Regions from separate parts of the Homo sapiens genome. Here region 2 is linked to region 1. Evidence: fine-mapped expression QTL. A gene starts in region 1. The other region holds a variant in brackets. All regions are shown on one strand. Distances are between the middles of the regions.

What was found. PIP is the estimated chance that this variant, and not a neighbour inherited with it, causes the effect. A credible set is the group of variants that fine-mapping cannot tell apart.
Region 2: its variant is the best candidate, but not a certain one, in a credible set for the expression of IPO13 in unexposed skin (GTEx, PIP 0.71).

The regions. Positions count from the first base shown.
Region 1 is chr1:43,943,887-43,949,249 of GRCh38, forward strand. IPO13 (importin 13) reads left to right here and starts at 3,064. Exons shown (of 20, transcript NM_014652.4): 1 at 3,064-3,798. The coding sequence starts at 3,715. It overlaps LOC101929609 (a long non-coding RNA gene), which reads right to left and starts at 2,713. Exons shown (of 2, transcript NR_188535.1): 1 at 2,595-2,713; 2 at 469-910. RefSeq lists a silencer at 2,860-3,109.
Region 2 is chr1:43,558,404-43,563,766 of GRCh38, forward strand. The region is part of intron 5 of PTPRF (protein tyrosine phosphatase receptor type F); the gene reads left to right. Among named protein-coding and RNA genes, the nearest start is that of PTPRF, 30 kb to the left of the region's middle. RefSeq lists an enhancer at 2,263-2,840. The variant C/A (reference allele first, on the strand shown) is at 3,053.

The DNA.
Region 1 (5,363 bases):
CCTAACCTCTCTCCCTCAAACCAGGGGACTACAAAGAAAACTGCCTACATCCAACCTTGGTACTAAGAAAGGGGAATAATCTCCCCCTGAGAATTCTTTTTTTTCTTCTTCTTCTTTTTTTTTTTTTTTTGAGACAGAGTCTCGCTCTGTTGCCCAGGCTGGAGTGCAATGGCGCGATCTCAGCTCACTGCAACCTCCACCTTCCAGGTCCAAGAGATTCTCCTGCCTCAGCTTCCCAAGTAGCCGGGACTACAGGTGCCCGCCACCACACCAGGCTAACTTTTGTATTTTTAGTAGAGACAGGGTTTCACCGTGTTAGCCAGGCTGGTCTCGAACTCCTGACCTCGTGATCCACCCACCTCAGCCTCCCAAAGTGCTGGTGGCATGAGCCACTGCGCCCGGCCTCCCGCTGAGAATTCTTAACTGCAAGCAGGCAGTCGTCTGGTTTTGCAGACCAAATTCACATGATTTTGGTAGGCTGAAAAACTTCAAAGTGATCATTTAATTTGACATGAACATGGATTGGTAGTGGTTCCAGGTGACCAACAAAAGCTCCCTCTCCTCCTCTGCTGAGTTTTGGGATGTTCCCTCCTGAATCTGCAGACCTCTCCCAGGGTTGCCACAGGTTCTTGCCCCTATAGGTCTACACTTGTTCCTTAGAGAAGAAAGAGCCCTTCTGGCTCCCAAAGACTTATCTGCCACTTGGCTCTGAGCTATCCTGCACTAACATCCAAATCTCCTGGAGATCACCTTTGGTCTGGCCTCCGGAAATGCCCCCAACTCTCCCCAGGGCCTACTTCAGTCCATCTGTCCTAAATAGTGTTTGCAAAGGATGTTCAGGAGTCATTGCTGTGAGACTGGGCTTCTTTCTCTGCCAGATCCCTGGAACCTCCAGGGATGAGGAGGAGCCCTGGATGGGAAGCAGGAAGAAAACACATACTGACTAAGTTGTGGTCTCTGGGCTGAGCCCCCCACCCCTAAAACCCCTTAACTAAAATGAGTTTCAGAAGAAGCTAAGGTCTCATTGCTAGAAAGAGGCATAAACAGGTTTTGAACTCAGGACTAAGTCCAGAATTTGTGCATTTAAACCCCACTCCCAACACCATCTCCCCTGCCCACCACCACCTCCACCAGTGAAACCGCCAGCCAGCACCAGGCCCAAGGTATTTCACACCCTAGGCACAGGCCTGGAATCAGTTACTTTATTTTGGCTTTCTATTTCCTCCTTCCAAATGTCTCCTGCCTCTCTTTCTTCCTTCAATTTGTCTTTCATGTTGCAGATTTTTCTAAAATGCAAATGTAATCATCATTGCTCACTTGAAACCCCATCATGGTTTCATATTGCACTTAGGATAATGTCCAAACTCCTACAAGAATCTATTGCCACCAACTTGTCTTTCCAACCTCATCTCTGTTACTCATACCCTTCCCCTTCCCCACCCCACATATATTCTCTTAAAATGAATATAAATTACTTACTATTCTTTCTTTTCTTTTCTTTTTTTTTTTTAGACGGAGTCTCACTCTGTCGCCCAGGCTGGAGTGCAGTGGCGTGATCTCAGCTCACTGCAAGCTCCACCTCCCGTGTTCAAGCCATTCTCCTGCCTCAGCCTCCCGAATAGCTGGGACTACAGGTGCCTGCCACCATGCCCGGCTAATTTTTTGTATTTTTAGTAGAGACGGGGTTTCACCGTGTTAGCCAGGATGGTCTCGATCTCCTGACCTCGTGATCCGCCCGCCTCAGCCTCCCATAGTGCTGGGATTACAGGCGTGAGCCACCGCGCCCGGCCTACTTGCTATTCTTTATTGATGAAGACTTGCTGAATGACTTAGAGTCCTACTGGATTTTGCTTACCAGCTAAATGGGCCCCTCTCCTTCCCAGGCTCTCTATTCTTCAAGCTCAGATCAAGTTTCTCTTCTCAGGGAAGCCTTCATGGACCTTCTCAGGCCTCAGCAGCTGCTGCCAATGCCAGCTTCCAATGCCAGCTTCCTCCATTTGAACAAAACTACGGAGCTCTTTGCACTTTTAATTTTTTCCTCTTCCCTGCTAGGGTAGCTGGCAGGAGTTAATAAACAATAAAATACAACTGGAGGGGTGACAGGCAGGAACTACCGGGGCCTGTGGCAGACCAGATCTATGGCATGGTCTGCCACCCTGTCTGTGTGCCAGGGGCAAGATAAGCCTAACTTTCCCCAAGCTCGATTTCCTCATCTCATCTGAAAATGATGAATAAAAATATCCACCTCAGAGCTATTAAGAAAACTGAACCTAAGGTAAGCAAAGTCCTGCTCCTAGCACTTAAATGTAAGCTACTCTTACTCTAGTTACACATAAAGTTACTTCCAAAAACCTTACGAAATTCCCCGAGCACTGTCCATGGTATGTGGTTTCCCGGTTGCTTATTGGGTGGTCCCGAGAGCCTTCCTTTTTTCCTTCCTGAGGCGTGCCAAGTCCCCTCTCCTCTTCTCTGGGTGGTGCTGACGCCTTCTTCCCAGGCTGCACCTTTGCTGGGCCGGAGGATGCCCCCGGCAGCGGAGCGCCAGAGTGACCAGGCAACCTCCCCAGCCTCCACCCTCTAGCCCGGGCTCCCACCTCCGTCCTCCGGCCCCTCGAGTCACGTCGTCCTACTAAGGAGTTGGGCCGCAGCGCCCCGCGCCGGTCTGACCCGGAATGCCTGCTCGCCGCGGTAGGCCGAGGACAGGCGGGGCTCTGCAGGTCCCCAACCCACGTGCTCCCGGCCTCCTCCGCAGGGCGCCGCCTTCCGGCTAGGCGCAACACGGACTACATTTCCCAGGGTGAACAGCGGCGGGGCCTAGACTCGGCCGCGGCCTGGGGCGGCGAGCCGCTCCACCGCCTGCTCAGGGGAGTGCGAGCTGGCGCGAGGACAGGGCTAAGGACCCGGAATGAGTTTCCGCGCAGTTCCGCTGGGCCGTGCCGGCCTGTACCGGGCCGTGCCGAGCCAGAACTGGCAGGAGTGGGGGCCTGAGTTGGAGGTGCCGGGGACAGGCGCTCGGGGCAGCCCGCGCCTTGCCGAGGTCCCTGCCCCGTCCCGGCCGGCCTGGCTTGTCTTGTCAGTCACTGGGGCGGAGGCAGCGGCTGTAGCGGGGCTGTAGCCGGGCGTTGAGCACAGCGCGGGCCAGGCCGAACGGAAGGGACCTGCCACAGCCCCTCAACTCCACGGACTCTTCGCCCTAGACTAGCGGAGCTGCATCTCCGCGCTTCGTTGGACGCCTCCGTAACCACGAAGGGCTCTCTCTCTCCCGTGACCCTCCAGCCCCATGACCTGTTCATAGCAGCCGAGAGCTCACCCAGGCGGGGGTGTTGTGGGTACAGGCCATCGACCCTGTGACCCCTCAAGAGCCAGGGACTCGGTTTCCCCCGCAGGCCTCCCTCCCCTGTGACTCCCTCCACACAGATTCTGGGGACAGAGCTGTTACCTGCCACTAGGATCCCCGCCTGAGAGCTCCTCACTGACGGCTCCCTCCTCGGAGTCCCCTTCATTGGGTCTCCTAAGAGCACCAATTTTGGTCTCTGGCAAGCCTCCCACCCCCAAACGAGGTGGGGAGGCCTCGGCAGCCATGCCCGCCCTGGGCCCCCCCTCACCCCACCACTCCCTGGGCACCCAAGCCGGGGTCTAGCAGGGGGCCAGCAGCCAAGGGGCTGGGGCAGGAGACAGATCAGGGCCCACCTCCCTGCCAGGGAGGGAGCAAAGATGGAGCGGCGGGAGGAGCAGCCGGGGGCTGCAGGGGCTGGAGCAGCACCAGCCTTGGACTTCACTGTGGAGAACGTGGAGAAGGTATGAGGGCTCTGGGGTGGGCACTCCAGTGACAGAGCAGAAGTTCTGGGGACTGTCACTGATGGCAGAGCTCAGGCCTGGGCTGGGTGCCCGCTGGTATGGTGCCCCCAGAGCACCTGGCATTTGCTCTCTTTCTGGGCAGGCAGTATTGCAGTGCCCTAATGGGCTATTTTTGTCTTTCCTTACAGGCAGGTCCCCTGTGGATAGATACTCTAGGGTCTTGGGATGGTCCCTTCAGGGTGCTGTGACTTAGCCTTCCGTCCAGACTGGCTATGTTCCAGCTCCATGGGAACTGCATGAGCAGTGCAGTAGGAAACTGGGAACCCAGGAGACCTGCAGCTCAGTCTCCTGGAATTATACTGATGCCAAACCATCCTGGACCTGGTTTTGTTGAGCCAAGGGCTCAGAAAATAATCTGGAACTAAAACAATCTGGGTTGTTTTGACTCTTTGGAGAAGGGTCCTTCCTTTATTGGATGGAAGCCAGACCAGTCCTGAGCAGGCAGGCCTGGGGCTGTCTCCCTTTGTTTTGTGCTGAGTCCAAGGGTCCTGGCCCTGCTGGGAGCCTTACAGGGCTCCTCCCTACTCGCCTGCCCACATAGCTCCCTGCCATGGCCCTCCCAGGCTCCCCGACTGCCCAGCCCATCTTTCTGAACTGCCTCTTTGGTTCTTTTCTGTATCTGCTCCCTACAACTTGAAATGCAGGAATGCATGCACCCTGGGATGAATGGGGAGATGGGGCTCCCTTACTTGAAAGCAGGGAATGATGTTCACTTGTTATCCTTAACCCCCGTTTGCCATAACAAACAATGAGGATGCATCTCTTCTGCCTGCTTTGGCGTCCCTGAGGGGCCAAACAAGGGCCAATGGCCATAACTGGCTGTCAGGGGTACAAATAGAGCTAAGCTTACTTGGATGGAGCCTGCTTAGGGGTCAGGGTCCTGGCCATACTCTTCCGCCCCTTGGAGCAGGGCAGTGTTGGCATGGTGGCGCACTGTTCCATGTGCTATTGGGAGATAAATCTCACTGTTTTCTTACTTCATAAAGTCCCGTTGGAATTGAGACCCCGGGGATTCTGCTAGTGGAGAGCACTAAGCTAGGTGTTTGCCAGGGCTGCAGCTATGGCCAAGGCTTCTCTGGATCAATTGGTTGGACATGTGCCCTCTGAGGAGTGTTCTCACCCTCTCCTCCAGCATGTCTGCCCCAGGGCTGCCTGGCAAAAGTCTTAGTCCTGCTCTGATTTCACACTGGCTTTGGTGCCAGCATCTGGACTGACCTAGGGATGATCCTGGGGGAGCTGAAAGGAGCTGTTGGAGTTGATGGGAGCAGCTGTGCCTGGGAGGGTCAAGTCCCCTCAAGCTGTTCCATGCCCTTCTCAGACTTAGCTTCATCCCTGTGAAGCTGTTCCTTCCACCTGGGCCTTGCCCTCAAGTGCCTCCCCTTTGGGGAGATCAGCCTCCTCTTTTTTGCTTTCCTGTGGAGATTCCCTCTCTGAACCCATAATGTTTTGCTGTAAGGAGAAGAGGATATGGTAGAGCATGGGCAAGGTTCAGGCTCTCAAGATAT
Region 2 (5,363 bases), 390 kb before region 1:
CCCCACAGCCGTGCCCTTTGCACCTCGCATCTGAGCAGGATTGTTATTCCCAGTGTGGCCTCCCCTTGACACCCCCGCCAGGACTGCATACGAGGTGGGGGTGCCCAGCACAAGCTGGCCGGGGTGAGCCTGTCCTGGCTGTGATGAGCGTGGGGCCCGCCGCCCAGCGTTCCTGTCTGAGTGGTAATTGAAGCCATTAGCGCGCCAGCCTCTCCCTCGCCGGGTAATGGCAGGAAAAGCTCTTCTCGCTCCGCACTCTTGAGGCGGCGGCTGAATCACTCCCCCTCCAACCCGCCCGCTGCCGCCACTGAGACAGGGAATCTGACATTTTCCCTCACCAGGGAGGGGGAGCCCTGGGGGAGGGGAGGGAGGCAGGCCTGGATTCCTGGCCTTTCCCTCCAGGAGGTTGAGGGGCAGTGAAGGTCTTGGAGCTCAGTCTGTAAGTCATGGATTCACCTGGGGCCGCAGATTTCAGGCCTGGAAGGACTGGCCGGGAAAGCCCAGGAGGCCGCCAGACATTCAGTGGTGTGGGGAGGGCACTGATGACTTTGGGTAGGTTCTGGGAGGGACAAGGAGGCGGGGAGAAGAAAGAAGCTGTGGAGCAGAGATGAGCTGTTTTGGACTTCTCCTGGGGGGCTTAGCTCCAAGGGTTCTGAGTACAGGTAGCATTACTTGTCTTGGGGTCATTGATAGGGCAGATAACGTGCACTGTTCGTGTGGTGTGGGTGCCCTGTGTGCCATGTTTAAGGCAGTGTTTGTGTGAAGTGTGTGGTGCAGTGTGTGCAGCAGGGGTGCTGCCTTGCAAGCTGTGCGCACAGAACGGGGTGTGCAGCGGTCAGCGCACACGTTACCATCAGGCAGTGGGGAAGGGGCAGTGTGTGCAGGAGGCACTGCATGCTGTATGGGCTGTGTATGCAGCGCGCAGTGTTTGTGTGCACGTGTGTGCGTCAGGCAGTGCGTGGTGTGGTGGTAAGCAGGTAGTGAGTACCTTATGGGCTATGTATACAGCAAGGCATATGCATCAGGCAGTGTGTGGGCAGTAGGCAGTGTGTGTGTGTGTTATCAGGCAGTATATGTGTGCGGTGTGCCGTGCGGCAGGCTACCTGTGTTTATATCGGGTAGTGTGTGTGTGTTTATGTGCAGCAAGGGTGTGCAGTAGGTGTGCAGTAGACTGTGTGCAGCAGGCGTGTGTGTGTGTACAGCAGGTGGTGTGCAGCAGGCAGTGTGTGTATGTATCAGGCGGGGTGTGGTGTGTGTTTATGTGCAGCATGCGGCGAGTACTTTGTGTGGTGTACAGCAGGTGGTGTGCGGCAGGCTGTGTGTATGTATCAGGCTCTGTGTGTGTGTGTGTGTGTTTGTACAGCAGGTGGTGTGCAGCAGGCAGTGTGTTTATCAGGCAGTGTGTGGTGTGTGTGTGCATCTTTATGTGCAGCGAGTAGTTTGTGGGGTGTGCAGCAGGTGGTGTGTAGCAGGCTATGTATGTATCAGGCTGTGTGTGTGTGTGCGCGCGTGTGTACAGCAGGTGGTGTGTAGCAAGCTGTGTGTATGTGTCAGGCAGTGTGTTTATGTGTGTGTGTCCAGCAGGTGGTGTGTAGCAGGCTGTGTATGTATCAGGCAGTGTGTGTGTGCGCAGCGGGTAGTTTGCAGGGGTGTACAGCAAGCAGTGTGCATGGTATGTACAGCAGATGGTGTGCAGCAGGCAGTGTGTGTGTGTGTGTGTGTACAATAGGTGGCATGCAGTGGGCAGTGCATTTGTGTGCATGCAGCAGGCTGTGGTGTGTACAGCAGGTGGTGTGCAGCAGACTGTGTGTTTGTATGCATCAGGCCGTGTGTGTGTGCAGCAGGCAGTGTGTGTGTGTGTACATGCGCACACGCAACAGGCACTATATTTGTGCAGCAGGCCATGTGTGTGGTGCATACAGCAGGTGGTGTGCAGCAGGCTGTGTGCTTGTACATGCAGCACATAGTGTATGTGTGTTGATGTCAGACAATGCATGTGCATGTGTGTGGAGTGCACAGCAGGTGATGTGCAGCAGGCTGTGTGTGTAGGTGTGCCTCGGGAGTGTGTGGGGGTGGGAGTGGACAGCAGGTGGTGTGTGCCTTACAACCTGTGTGGGCAGCAGCAGGAGTGGGCAGCAAGCAGCCCGAGCTGAAGTGTGGTGGGGTCAGTCTGGCACTGGCAGGAGGTCGGAGATGCTGTGTCTGGGCTCATTGTCTCTGGGACCCCGCAGGATCCCTGTTTGGAGCTGTTGGTCCGCCAGGAAGTTCGACAGAGTTGGATGTGGCCAGAATGGTCTGGCTGAGCTGTTCTCAGCACCTGTTGTGGTCGACCTCAGCAGCTCCTCTGTAGCCAGGCCAGGAGGTGGGGTGCACCAGATAGGGATCCTGCCCAGACCTGCCTGCAGGAGGTCTTGGGACCCTTTCCTCTCCCTCCCCTACCCCACCAAGCCCACAGTCCCTTCTGTCTGTTCCCACCTGGCCTCAGTGTCCAGCCAGCACCATACCACCTATGCCATGCGGGCCAGGGAATCCAGGTGTCTCGATGGAGTGCCTGGTGTTGCCAGCCTTGGAGCAGGCTCTGGGGAAGGGCTGTCCGGCACATGAAGTAGTGACCAGGGTGGGGGCTAATCAGTGCTGTACTGGGCTTGGACCTCTGGGTTCTGCAGGAGCTCTGACCCTGGCTGGCTTTGGGGCTCGTGGGATGACGAAGGACCTCTTGATATACCCCCTGACCACTCCACAACACAGTCCTTTTGGAAATAGCCCTAGAGACAGAGGGTCAATGATAGACATATGACCCTGTCCTGAGGTATCCTGGGCTGGGCTGGAACTGGAGCAGAGCTGGTGAGGGAGCTTACATTTGCAAGATGGGTACATGTGTGTTTTCTCAAGGAGTCATCTCTCCCTGCTCCACCTCCTTCCCTGCTCCAAACCTGTATATTCCTTCCACCCATGGTGGAATGACTTGGCCCAGGCCTGACTTTGATGGCTGGGGAGTTGGGTAAAGGGCTATTGCAGGCACAAGATGGCTTCCCAAGTGGCAAGATGTGAT[C/A]CCTTTCTATTGTCTACATGTGTGTCTGGGGTAACAGTCTGCTTTGGCAGAAGCTGGGGCTGTCAACTACCTGATTTGCAGCACAGAGGATGTAGAAGTGGCCCCAGAACCTGGAACCCAAGCCAGCTTCTACCTCTCCCTTAGCAACTGAGGCATGACCTGTATACCCCTGGTCCAGCTGCTGTAGTCCTCTGTGACCTGTCCTTACACCCCCATGACTGCAGTAGATTTCAGATCCACGCAGACATGAGGTTCTACAATCATTTCCTGGAGGTTCTAGGCCTCAGGGATGGGGATGGGAGAGGTATTAAGTAAGTTCTCCTGTTTTTATTAGCTGTGATCTGCCTTGAGGCGCCCAAGTGGATTCCCTTCCGAATGGGTGCTCCTGTTTAGTAGGTGGTACTCCTGCCTCTTCTGTTAGCCATGGACACTGGGCACTTCCCCTGTGCCCAGCCTGCCCCCCTGCCCCTATACTCACAGGTACTTGTAAGGCCCACTGTACGTGTTCCCTAGCCTCATGACCACGGTGGAGCCAATGGCTCTGGGAACAGGCTCACCAGGATGGCGGTTTAAATGCCCAAATGCCCTGTGCATGCACATTCTCCATCCTTGGTAAGGTGCTCCCTCCTACTGGTTTGCTTGCTGGGGAGAGAGGACTTGTTTTTTTTTTTGAGATGGTGTCTGACTCTGTGGCCCAGACTGGAGTGCGGTGGCACAATCTCAGCTCACTGCAACTTCCGCCTCCCGGGTTCAGATGATTCTCCTGCCTCAGCCTTCCGAGCAGCTGGGACTACAGGCACGCGCCACCACACCTGACTAATTTTTTGTATTTTTAGTAGAGATGGGGTTTCACCGTGTTAGCCAGGATGGTCTTGACCTCCTGACCTCATGATCCACCCGCCTCAGCCTCCCAAAGTGCTGGGATTATAGGCGTGAGCCACCGCGCCTGGCCCTGAGAGGACTTTTTTGAAACGGAGTCTCACTCTGCCACCCAGGCTGGAGTGCAGTGGCGTGATCTCGGCTCACTGCAACCTCTGCCTCCTGGGTTGAAGCAATTCTCATGTCTCAGCCTCCCGAATAGCTTGGGATTACAGGCATGGACCACCACGCCCGGCTAATTTTTTGTATTTTTAGTAGAGATGGGGTTTCACGAAACATGTTGGCCAGGCTGGTCTTGAACTCCTGACCTCAAGTGATTTGCCCGTTTTGGCCTCCCAGAGTGCTGGGATTACAGGCATGAGCCACTGCTCCTGGCCAAATTTTAATCAGAGCAATGACGTGATCAAACTTAAGCTTCAGAAAGGTCCGTGTGGGTGCATAGTGGGGGCTGGAAGGAAACCAATGACAGGTTGTTGCAGTCCAGGTGAGTGATGGCATTGGCGCAAATCTGGGTATGGGTAGGGGAAGATAGGGGAGCAGATCACTAGAAGGTTAGAAAGAGGCCGGGCACGGTGGATCATGCCTATAATCCCAGCGCTTTGGGAGGCCAAGGTGGGCAGATCACTTGAGGTCGGGAGTTCGAGACCAGCCTGGCCAACATAGTGAAACCCCGTCTCTACTAAAACTGTAAAAATTAGCTGGGTGTGGTGGCAGGAGCCTGTAATCCCAGCTACTCTGGAGGCTGAGGCATAAGAATTGCTTGAACCCGGGAGGCAGAGGTTGCAGTGATATGAGATGGCGCCACTGCACTTCAGCCTAGGCGACCAAGCGAGACTCCATCTCAAAAAAAAAAAAAAAAATAAGATTAGAAAGAGTAGAGGCCTGCCTGGCTACCTGTAGGATTGGGGAGGTGCAAGGCTCCAGGTTCCTGGCTCTGGGGCTGGGTAGGTGGGGGTGCCATTTCTAAGATTCATGTACTAGAGGAGGACCAGGTTTGAGGAGGCGAGTTGGTGAGTCCAGTTAGAAATCTGTTGAGCCAGGTGTGCGCAGGCATCCAGGGAGGTGTCAAAGAGGCCTCGTACACATTTGCCTGGCACTCCGGGGGACATCTGAAGTTGGAATCTTACAGGCTGAGAAATAGCAAATCTCAGGAGGCCAGAGCCAGGACAGAAGGAGCCCCAGGAACCGACTCTCCATGTTGGGAGGAGGTTCCTGAGAGACTGGAGGGAAACTGGGAGTGTGTGAGGTCAAGAAATGCCAAGAGAAAAAAGTGTGCGAAGGAGGAGGAGTGGTCAGCAGGGCGGGGTGCTGCCGAGAGGCCCGGCATGTGTCCTTAACAGTTAGTTCCGTGGAGCCATTGTTGGCTTTGGTGTTGGGAGACAGCAGGGCTGAGAAGTGAGAGGGAGGCTATCAGTGTCTGTAGTGACTGGAA